Linked DNA regions of Homo sapiens. The protein of the gene in region 3 interacts with the protein of the main gene of each other region in a pairwise test. Each region holds a gene or a part of one and is shown on either strand. Other genes may lie near its edges.

Evidence for each region.
Region 1: the proteins of APBA2 (region 3) and LRP8 interact in a two-hybrid assay, tested with the Homo sapiens proteins (one study listed by BioGRID).
Region 2: the proteins of APBA2 (region 3) and APEX2 interact in binary tests that used the Homo sapiens proteins (3 or more experiments, as listed by UniProt).

What each region holds. Positions count from the first base shown.
Region 1 is NC_000001.11:53,321,435-53,325,181, forward strand, and holds part of LRP8 (low-density lipoprotein receptor-related protein 8 isoform 1 precursor), read right to left. Parts: intron 1-3,747. UniProt on the Homo sapiens protein: Cell surface receptor for Reelin (RELN) and apolipoprotein E (apoE)-containing ligands. LRP8 participates in transmitting the extracellular Reelin signal to intracellular signaling processes, by binding to DAB1 on its cytoplasmic tail.
Region 2 is NC_000023.11:55,003,321-55,007,067, reverse strand, and holds part of APEX2 (DNA-(apurinic or apyrimidinic site) endonuclease 2), read right to left. Parts: intron 3,270-3,747; coding exon 3,200-3,269; intron 551-3,199; coding exon 1-550. UniProt on the Homo sapiens protein: Functions as a weak apurinic/apyrimidinic (AP) endodeoxyribonuclease in the DNA base excision repair (BER) pathway of DNA lesions induced by oxidative and alkylating agents.
Region 3 is NC_000015.10:28,888,949-28,892,695, reverse strand, and holds part of APBA2 (amyloid-beta A4 precursor protein-binding family A member 2), read right to left. Parts: intron 1-3,747. UniProt on the Homo sapiens protein: Putative function in synaptic vesicle exocytosis by binding to STXBP1, an essential component of the synaptic vesicle exocytotic machinery. May modulate processing of the amyloid-beta precursor protein (APP) and hence formation of APP-beta.

The DNA.
Region 1 (3,747 bases), on a different chromosome or scaffold from region 3:
TGGGACAGCATGGGCCTGGGAGTAGACCACTAACCTGGTGCTGGGAGAGCATGCATGCATTTACTTCCTTCAAGGGCGTGCCTGTTCCATCCGCCCTCTGGGCTCTCGCTCCTCACTGCCCCCTGGGGGTCTCTCTCTCTCTGGCTTCACCTGCTACCAGCATTTCCCCAAGGAGGAAAGTTGTCAAGTCGGCCACCAGCAGACAACTGGGGAGGAAGAAGCCAACCATCCCTGAGGCCCAAGGGACTCACACCGGGGAATGCTGACCTGGGAGGGCCCAAGGGAAAGTCTTCAGCAAACACTCCCAAGGCCTGCTAGGGCCTGCTGGGCAGTGCCATGGGGGATGCAGGCCCTCCTCTCCTCCCCAGGCACAGCCAAGAGGAAAGGAGCAGACAGGACAGAAGCCAGCCTCTAGGACCAGCACACAGCCAGAGGGAAGCCATCCGCTGCCCCTCCTAGGGCCCTAGGCCTGTTTGACTCATTTCTTCCCCCAGCTCCTTTCCAAGCAGCTTTCTGTCACCTCTACGGTGGCTGGGCAACTCCCTGGCTGAGGCGAGCACCAGCTGCAGGAACCTCGACATCTGGCTAAGCAGACAGGAGCAGGGGAAGCAAGGGGTCCGGGTTGGCCTGCAAAGACCAGACGTCAGGTACCTAGAGACCTCAGTGAAACCCCTCCCACCAAGAACAACCTCACCCACTGCCATTCACTGAACACCTCCTGCTTACCAGGCATGTGACCTCATTTAATCCTCACATTTAATCTCCGAAAAGGAGGGCCTAGTATCATCCTCACAACCATTCATCCAGGAGGCGACAGCTGGGATGTAAAAACCAGGTGTGTCTGAGTTGTGACTTTGACATGGGTCTCTAAGTAACTCAAATCCTGTATCTCAGCCTGGAGGCAATGGGGTGTCAGGGAAGGCTTCCTAGAGGAGGTGACACCTGCACCGGATCTCTTAGGATGATAAAATGAATCCAGCCAGTGAGGGAGCAGGGTGTCCGGCAGGAGGAATAGCACACACAAAGGCCTGGAGGTGAGAAGCAGCAGGAGGGTGAGAGTGTGGCAGAAGCTAATTTGGTGTCACAGGCTCACAGGAAGAGGCGGGAAGAGGTTGCAGGGAAGTGGGTAACAGGAGCAGGTCACAGAGGGCCAAATACAGAGGAGTCTACACTGACTTTATTCTCTGGATAGTTGGGAGCCCCAGGAGGACTCTGGATGGTGGAGTTGCCCGGTCAGGTGAAGACGGGGAGGTTCAGAAAGGAGCCACACTGTCGTCAGATGGCTCCATCCACGAAGGAGATGAGGCTGGGTCCAGTGTCAGGAGCACACGTCCAGGCCGCACACTGAGGGCCAGATGCGGGCTACAGCACAGGCAGGGAGCTGTGGCCGAGCTTTAATTATTTATGAGGCTGTTTCCCAGCAAGACTCAGCACTCCTGCAGCCTGGCCTTGCCCAGCTAATGAACTCTCAGCCATGGGAGACCTCCCTGTGGCCACTCTTTATTAAACCTGGGATGGAGGGGTGATGGGTGCTGGGATAACAAAAGAGTCCAAAGAAGCCTGAACAAAGTCGAGGTCAGTGAGCACAAAACTGGTCCACCTGTCTACCCAGCCTTTCCGCGAGAAGCACAGAACTTCCTAGAGGAGGAAGCGAGGTGGAGTAGCCTTAAGATGTCATCTCAAGACAGGGAAATGAAGGCCTGGGAAGGACCTACCTAAGTCACCAGCCAGTACTTGAGACAGTACAAGTTCCATAGCTGGTCACCCGCATTCACACCCCAGCAGTTCTACACCCTTGGGCCAGTTACGTAACCCGTCTGTGCCTCGATGAGATAGGACTATTTCAGGTACTTCATAGTGTTGCCCCATTTTATAGAATAGAGGAACGAGGGGCGATGTGTGGACAATCTCAGCACGATGCCCGGTCCACAGCAAGTGCCCAGACAGCGTTCATCGGCGCTATGGTTACTGTTGTGACTCTGGGAGTAAAGGCCAGGCCAGAGACCGGAATCTCTGCCTCTGCCCCCAGACACTAGGGAGCAACAGGAAACTGAGGCCCAGGGGCCAGCTGGCCTACGTGACCCAGGCCCACAGCCAGGAATCCCACCCGACTTCCCCTGGCTGGGCTTCCTTGGGCCTGGCTCTCTAGCTTCCAGCTCCTTCCTCCACTTTGAAGGTTCTTTGAGCTGAGAACTAAAGCCCCAGGAGCTTTTCCCTCTTCCATCCCGCAAGCTCCATCTGTGTCTCCAAAGAGCCAAGTCCCAGCCACTGTGGATGAGGCTCGGGACTTAGAAGGCCTCAGTTTGAGTTCCAGCTCCAACCCTGAGGAGCTCTGTGACTTTGGGGGAGTCACTTCACCTCTCCAAGCCTATGTCCTCTATAATATAGGAACAATACCACCTGTTTTTAAATGGTAAACTCTGGGGGAATGCTATTAGTTACCATCTTTCAGGCCTAGTTCAGCAGTCTCCTCCTCCAGGAAGCCTTTCTTGGCTTCCTTAAAAGTTCCCTCCTTCCAGCCTCTTGGTATTCAGGGGCTGCATTCTGGCCCCTTTGGGAACTTGGACTCATTTTGCCTCACGCAGACTCTATCTACAAATTCCAACCCCCATTTTGCAGGCCCAGAGATGTACAAAGGTGGGGCAGCTCAAGCCCTCTTGCAGGGTGGTGTGCCAAAGAGGGTGGTCAGGGGTAAGGCACGGAGACTGCTCAGGGAGGAGCAGATTTTGTTATCCCAGCACCTATCACCCCTCCATCCCAGGTTTAATAAAGAGCTCCTCAGGGACGAGCCAACAGCTCTCTCTCCTGCAGGGAGAACAGTTCAAAGAAATTCAGTCTGGGCAGGTGGCCTAGAATGCGGGAAGGGCTGAGGAAAGAACATTTTCCAGCACCTGGCCCCAACACAGCCACGTAAGCCCCACTCCGTTTCTTCAGTTTCCCTTTATGGCTACCAGGAGTCCGTTTCTAAAGGCCGTGGAGGTGGGAACACTCATCCATCCGTTCCCTTCTTGCCAGCCCTGTGTGTCTATGTGCACAGCCAGCGTTGGAGGGACAGCTGCCCCTGTTTGGCAGATGAGGAAACAAGCTCAGAAAAGCCAAGCCATGTGTGATTACTACTTGGTACTATCAGCAGCGCCGCCACCCTTTCCACTCCAAGCTTGACGTCATTCACTTTTGTTTAATAACTCCCTGCCTATGACTCTACCCCATGCATCTCAGAGCCATGCAGGAGCCCAGCTTGGCCATTGGAGCTCTCTTGGCCCACCTGAGCGTCACTCAGCACCCAGCTACTTTACTCCTCCATCTCGTCCAAAGCCTCACATGGAGCTGAAACGCACCAGGCCTAACATTTAAAGCCCGTCTTTCCAGCTCCTAGATCACACTCCTGGTGCTTTCCGCACCACACTCCCCACCTCAGCAGACAGTGCCCTGAACTCGAGGCAGGCAGAGATCCTGACCAAGTTCTGTCATCCTGAGCTGTGTGACCTTGCATAAGTCACTCAACTTCTCTGAGGAGGCATCCTTATCTAGAAAGTAGAATGACAAGAAAATTTCTGCTTTTCACAGCCATCCTCACAAGGACAGTTGTTATAAAGAGCCAGGGAGATAAGGCATAACCAGCCCAGACACGCAGTTTCTATTCCTTGCCTCGTCCTCAGTACTCCCACTCTAAGGAGACCACAGAACAACTCCCAGTGAGGAAACTCACTGCAATATTTTACCAAGGCACAGCCATTTTCATAACCT
Region 2 (3,747 bases), on a different chromosome or scaffold from region 3:
AGTAGCTCTTCAGGTTTTTCTGGCCTCTGCTAGAGCCAACCTGACTGGGCTGAGGCCTGGTTGAGCGCACTTGGGCTTTGTTTTGGCATGTCTGTACCCGGGTTTGATTGTTGTGCTGCAGCGTCGACTGCTCCAACACAGGACTTTGTTCGAGAGGAACTAGGAAGCGAAGGATCTTGAGCTGGGTGCCTGCAAACTCAGGGAGGAAGCGGGTGCACAGAGGTGGGCACTGTTTTGCAGGCACAGAGGACACACTCAAGACTGCACCCACAGGGCAGTGGTCAGAGCCCATCACCTCAGGCAGCAGGAAAGAGGCCTGAAAGGTGTCTATGACCAGGGTCCTGTCCCCCAGCACATAGTCAAGCCGGGAGCCATAGTTGAGATGGCGGGCGCCAGTGACTGCTGACCAGCAGGTGAAGGCCCCCTCCTGCTTTGGTTGGAAGCAGCGGTAGCTATCGATGAAGGGCCCTACATGAGAGGCAGACTGGCACCCCAAGTTACTGAGCAAGCTGTCCATCCACTTGCGCCCTGGGTCCTCTTCAAAGCATTCCTAGGTGAGGAGGAAAGGGGGTTGGAAGAGAGAGAGACAGAACTAGATACCTAGAACTGGAAGGGACTTAGACTAACTGCTGCATTTTGCAAATAAGAAAATTTGGTTGTCCCAAGAGGACTACTGCTCAAGGTCACACAGTCCGGAATTGGCAGAGCTGGGATTCTGATTTTCATCCTTACTGATTTAAAAGACCATGCTTGTTTTTCCCTCTGCACGAGCTTGCATTTGTCTTGCATTGGTCCGTCAATGGCAAATCTGAAAGTTTGCTTACTCAAAGCAATTCCTGGAACTGCTTTTCAAAAGGATGGAAAACAGGAAGTTAAAAGTGTTTGCCTCTAGGAAGCAGGGCTGGGGTTAAGAGTTAGGAAGACTGTCAGCTTCTTCCTTTAAACCCTCTGGCACTATTTGGTTTATCTAGTGTGTCAAAGCCCTCAATGACCATTCCTACCTCCTGAGCTGAGGACCTGCAAGGATCCAGGTCTGAATACTTCCTTAGGCTCTGATCCCCAATCCATCATCCATCAGTCCATCCATTCAATCCACCTACCCACCCACTCATTCAATGCAAGAAATGTTCATGGAATACCTATTATGTGCCATGCATGATGCCAGGGACAAAGTAGGAACCTGATCTACTCCTGGGGACCAAGGAGGCTTCCTTTCGAGAAGTGATCTGGAGCTGAGGTGTGGGGGCTGAGTAAGAGTAACCTAGGTGGAGGGTGCTCCTAACTTTAAGAACAGTCTCTGTGCTGGGCCTGTGGAGGGAGTGTGCTGCGTACCCAAAAGACTTGAGGAAAGACCAGACTGGAGACCAGAATACCAGCAGGAAATGGCTGCCATAGTCACACAAGCAAGATGATGGTCACTTGGACTAGGGTGGGTGCCAGAGGAGACAGAAACATGAAATTATGAGATGATTTGTAGCTAGAATCAACAGTACTTGCTGACTAACTGAATGTGGGAAGTGGAGTAAGAAAGAAAGACAATACTAGCACAATTCCCAGGCTTTAAGTTGAAGCAATCAAGGGGATGATGGTGCCATTTACAGAAATGACAAGACTAAAAGAGCAAGCCTGGTAGAAAGTGGGTATGTTCTGCTATTTTGGAAAGACTGTGTAAGTCATCTGAGCTGGCACTATTAGTTCTCTTTTCCTGGAGGAGAAAATGAAAGAGGTATACATAAGAGATCTAGGATACCTCTGAACTAAGTAGAAAAGGCACAAAGATGTATGATGCTATCACAGGAATCTGAAAGAACACACTGAATGAATGCATAAGAGGAATGAGGCAGGGAGGGACTGAAGGCTCACACTTTGTAGCATTATCTCCGCTCCCCACCACACCACCACCACCATTCTCTCATTCTCTCACTTCTGCTCATTTTCCCAGCTGGGAGCCATATCTACATTTATGTAGCTCTTCTGTGAATTAATCAAGGAATATTCCCACGGTCCCTTCTCTAAGCCAAGCCCAGTGCTGAGTAGGACTGTACCAGCATAAATCACTGATCCCCCATCGTGAGACATAAGGCAAGAAAAGATGAGAGCTGGCTTGTGGATTCTAGGGCAGTGGTTCTCAAGCCTGGCTGCACAATAAAGTCACACTGGGGGCTTTTAGAACGTGCCACTACCCTGGCCCCACACTCGAGAGTTCTGAGTTCATTGATCTGGAGTAGTGCTAAGATATTGATATTTTTGTTCTAATATGCAGTTAGGGGCTGAAAACCATGGGCCTAGGGGAACTTAGAGATAAGAGGTTCATATAACAAAAAGACAGGGAGGGGGTCATGTCCACCAATTCAGGGCACAGTGAGAAAAGCCAGAATGAGAATAACTTTTACAACGGGCCGACAGGAGACAACCTGTCTAGAGAGGACAAAATGTGTAGGGACACTGAAGGTGGAAATAAGAGACAGGTCACAGACCAAGGAGAGCCTTGAATGCTAGGTCTCCATGTTTTCTCTGCATCACAGAGGTAACAGGGAGGTACTGAAAGTTCATAAACAAGAAATACAGTGTATTAAGGAAATGACCAAGGCAATGTGGAATTCACAGTCCTTGAAATCTGACCCCCAACAACTCTCCAGCCCCACCTTCTGCCACTCACCTCCCTTCCTGTGTCACTAAGAAGAAAGGGACTTGTGGTTCCCCATGCACACAATGCAAATTCTCACCTTGAAACCTTTGCCCATGCTAGAATGCTTTCTACTTCAAAGCTCTGTTCTACTCATCTGTTAAGATTCAGCCATTTTCAGCTGCCTGTCCTGATGTCCGAGCTCACCTAGGAATCCCATCTCTGAGCTCCTGTAGCTTTCTGGGATGCCATCTGTGCCTCTGCCCTGAGAATACCATCCTATAATTGGCTAGCCATGTGTCTGTAGCCCACCACCATGCTGGAGAGCTCCTAGGAGCCAAGGGCTGGATCTGACTCCTGAGTCCTCAGTATGTGGCTCAGGGCCAGGCCATGGGCAGAGTCAGTATTGTCTATTGAATGAATGACCAATCCTCAGTACTATAAGAATAGTATTGCAAGCCAAGCTCCGCTTTCCCATAAAGGAAGCTGTCCCTGGGCCAAAAACTCAGGGTTGGTTGGCTGGACAAACAGAATCAGTCAGGAGTGGGGCCAGGCACCTAGAGGGAGCCTTACCAGGTTGACTGCATCCCAGTGGTCAATGGGGCGGTGGGCTGTATTCAGGTCACCCAGAATGATCACATGGCTGAAAAACACAATGTGGGATTGTTAGAAAGGGGTGCAGCAGTCCTGGCCCATATACTTTTTCCTGGGCCCAAGAGCTCAGACAGGCCCTCTCCCATATTGAGGCTTCCTAGCCAACAGCAACTCATAACAGCCTACCTCTCCAATCTTACCACAAACTTGCTGCCTTTCATATCTGACCAACCCAATTCTGATCTCCAAAGGTGACAGTGTTCCATGTTTGACATGACTGCCTCACTAATCAGGAGCCAATGGGCATTTTTCTTGTCCTTCAAAGCTGAGCTCAGATACCACCTCCCCTTGATTGCTCTAACCCACCCTCACTTTCCTGTCCTCCGCTGGAACAAGACTTTCCTTTGCTCCCACGCACTTTACCATTCTCATCTCATTTTACCCTTAAAACTATTGTGTAGGGTAGAGATTCATATATTCATTTGACAAAAGAGAAAACAGAGGCAAGACTAGCCCTAGGGCTCACA
Region 3 (3,747 bases):
TATATACACATACATACACACATATATACGTACACATACACACACACACACACACATATACACACAGTTATGCATCGCTTAATGGCAGGGATGTGTTCTGAGAAATTTGTCATTAGGCAATTTCATCATTGTGCAAACATCATAGAGCATACTTTATACAAACCTACTCCACACCTTGGCTATAGGTTACAGGCCATTGCTCCCAGGCTACACACCTGGGCAGCATGTTACCACGCTGAATACTGTGGGCAACTGTAACACAAGTATCTATCTAAACATAGAAAAGGCACAGTAAAAATATGGTATAAAAGATAAAACATGGGCCAGGCGTGGTGGCTCACGCCTGTAATCCCAGCACCTTGGGAGGCCGAGGTGGGCGGATCATGAGGTCAGGAGGTCGAGACCATCTTGGCTAACACAGTGAAACCCCGTCTCTACTAAAAATCCAAAAAAATTAACCAGGCGTGGTGGCAGGTGCCTGTAGTCCCAGCTACTCGGTAGGCTGAGGCAGGAGAATGGCATGAACCCGTGAGGCAGAGCTTGCCGTGAGCTGAGATTGAGCCACTGCACTCCAGCCTGGGTGACAGGGCGAGACTCCGTCTCAAAAAAACATATATATATATTATATATAACACAGTACCCCATCTAGGACACTAACCATGAATGGAGCTTGCAAGACTGGAAATTTCTCTGGGTGAGTCCATCTGTACACTAGCGTAGACTTTATAAATATTGTACACTTAGGCTACATTAAATTTTTTTAAAAAATAAAGTAACTGCACTACAACTTTACGACAATGTCACTAAGCAATAGGAATTTTTCAGCTCCATAATAATCTTATGGGACCTCTGTCATATATGCTATCATTCCCCAAAACACTGTCATGTGACGCATGACTGTACACATATATCTCAACTGAAAATGCCAAATGTCAATAGTGTTCTCCGACTCACTATTTACTAATGAGAGTTTCCTCAGAACTGTCCTTGCCTGAGAGTTTCAGAACCAAGCATCTCTCTGCGCAGTTGATTCTAGGGACAACAAGTGCTAAGAATCCATGTTGGCTTCAAGTGCAAAACGGAAAACACCTTCATGTCCCACCAACCATGTCAGCCACCTTCCTGGAGGGCAAGCTCCCAGACCCTCTCCCCATCCCTGTGAAGGGCCCATGTCATCTGTGGCATTTCCATGACTCTCTGATGCCAGCCATCAGTCTCTCGGCACGTGTTGAAAATTAGCCTCTGTACTTGCCCACCAGTGGTCACGAGTCCTAGTCATGCCCACCCCGTGAAAAACAAATCTGATACAAAATGGGCCCCAGCAGGAGACAGGGAGAAAACATGGGCCTCACACTCTCTCCAGCTCAGGCTCAAAGGCCAGCACTGCCCCGTCACAGCAGAGTGTTCTTAGGCAACCCACAGCTCAGCTACCTGTCCCCAGCCTCCTTGTTGCAAAGTTAAGACAAGACGTGCCTTCCAGATTTGTCGGGAAATTATTTAAAATGACAAACAAAGAAGGATGAAACTCAACACACAGAATTGCCCAATGATGTGCATTTCATTCCAGTGGTTTCGCCATCAAAACCATCTTCAAATGTTGGAGTGTTTCCGTTTCCAGAAAACTAGAGATGAAAATATTTTCAGTCACTCAATGCAGGAAGTTCAACCACATATTTTTTTTCTCTTAACTTTGATCCTTGAAACACAAAACAACAGACATAGCACCTTATATTAAAACAGCCCCTTAGAGTTTATGACGTGCCTCCTCTGCATTCTCTCACTAGGCCGTAGCTGTAACTCACAAACCTGACCCTTAAAACTCTCAGGACAGTAAGAGAAGCCACACAGGCCCAAGGCTACGTGGCCACACCAAATGACTTGCTGTCATAAAATATCTTGCATCAGTTAAATATTGCATCTCATTTGTGCCTCAAAACAACCGCAGGCAAGAGGCCTCGTGCGTGTATTGCAGATGCTGAGAAAGACTCTCAAGCCAGGTGACTGGCCCTGGGCCCCAGGGATTAGTGGCAGGGCCAGGCTGGAACTGAGCTCCTGTTACTCCAAATCCCATCCTCTTTTCCAACCTCCCAGTCCCTTTCTCATAAAACTAAAGCATCTCCTCCAACTAGGCCAGGACACAGGCAAGAGACAGTCAGGCAGGCGGAGGCTTCTGGAAGGTAAAGCAGAGTGGCTGGGAGCCCTGGGACAGAGTCTGACATTACATACAAGACAAGTTTGGAAAGATCCAGATGGAGTGGGAAGGGAATCTGGGCGTGGGGGTGCCTCCTTCCAAAGTGCATCCACATCCGAGGTGACTGCAGGGAGACACAGAGCTGACTTTGGCAGCAGGGACCGCCTGGGTGCAGAGAACCCAAACAACTGAAAATCCAAAAAGGAATCTTAGTGCAGAATCAGAAAGCTCACTCTTTGGGCTGCTTACCTTCCCAAACACATTCTCCTCTGGCCTATGTGAAACTGACGTTGCACTGTACAATTCTACAGCTCTTTCCTGACTGCCCACTGAGTGAGGGTCTGTGCTACATGCCAGGAGGATCCAAATGTGAACACAGCTAGGTTCCAGCTCTGGGACGCGGGAAAAGGAGGCACAGGGAGCAGGACATGTGCTGCAAGGAGACTACTGCTCCCGTGTTTCGTTCACTCACTCATCCAACAACAGCGCTAAGGCTCTGCTGTGTGCCAGGCACTTTTCTAGCTACTGGGGATCCAGAGGTGAACAAAGTCTTTTACAATTGAGTGGTAAGAGACTGACAATAAACAAACAAGTAAATAAATAACACACTGAATGGTGAGTACTAAGGAGAAACACAAAGCAAGGTTAACAAGAGAAACACAAAGCAAGGTTAACAAAGCCAATTTATGTAGGGCTTTCAGGGAGTGGGCAATAAGTGAGGGGCCAGCCATGTGAGCATCTGGGGGTGGCTCATGCCAAGGGGGTGGGAACAGCAGGTGCAAAGGCCCTGAGGCAAGAGTGGCCTGACAAATCTGAGGACCAAGGAATAAGAGGGAAAGAGCCCACATTCAGTTGGGATCTCCAGGATGGACATGCGCCAAGATGACAGGTGGGGATGGGGTGGGGACAACCCAGGGCAGATCTGGGCAGTAAGCCTGTCTGCCTGGAGCCAGGGCAGCCTGGAGGGGCCATTCTTGGGAGCAAGTGGGGGAACTTGAGAAAATCCAGCCGAGTAACGTGGATGTGGAGGGAGCACTGGAAAGCCACTGAAGGCCTGGGCAATGGTGACACACCTGGCCTGGGCCAACTTGCAGAGTCAGGAGTACCCCACAGCCCCCAACCTGGGAAACCTCACAGCCAGCACAGAAATCACAATGCACACAGCAGTGGCACCCCACCAGTACGTAGGGTTCCACAGAGTGAGCCTGGCTGCATGATCTTGAGGTCACCTACCTCCCAGGGCTCCCTTGTGTGTCTGGACAGGGAGAGAGGGGAAGATTGGCTTCAGGGGAGGCGAGAAAAGACGGTGCCCACGACAGCTGACTCAGCCTGTGCCAGCAGGCTGCTCTGAGACACGAGCTGGACCCAACCCAGGCGGTGGGCGGCAGGGGGTTGGGGAGGAACTCTGGGAAACGAAGGAGCCAGAGAAGCCTCCCTGTGGGCACTCGGGCCAACCACCACCCAAGGGAACAAAGAGCACCCCCAGCCCCCGCTGGGCACACAGGCTGCCTCCTGGTGAGCAACCCTCTCAAACTTCACCCCCAGCCCCCACCGGG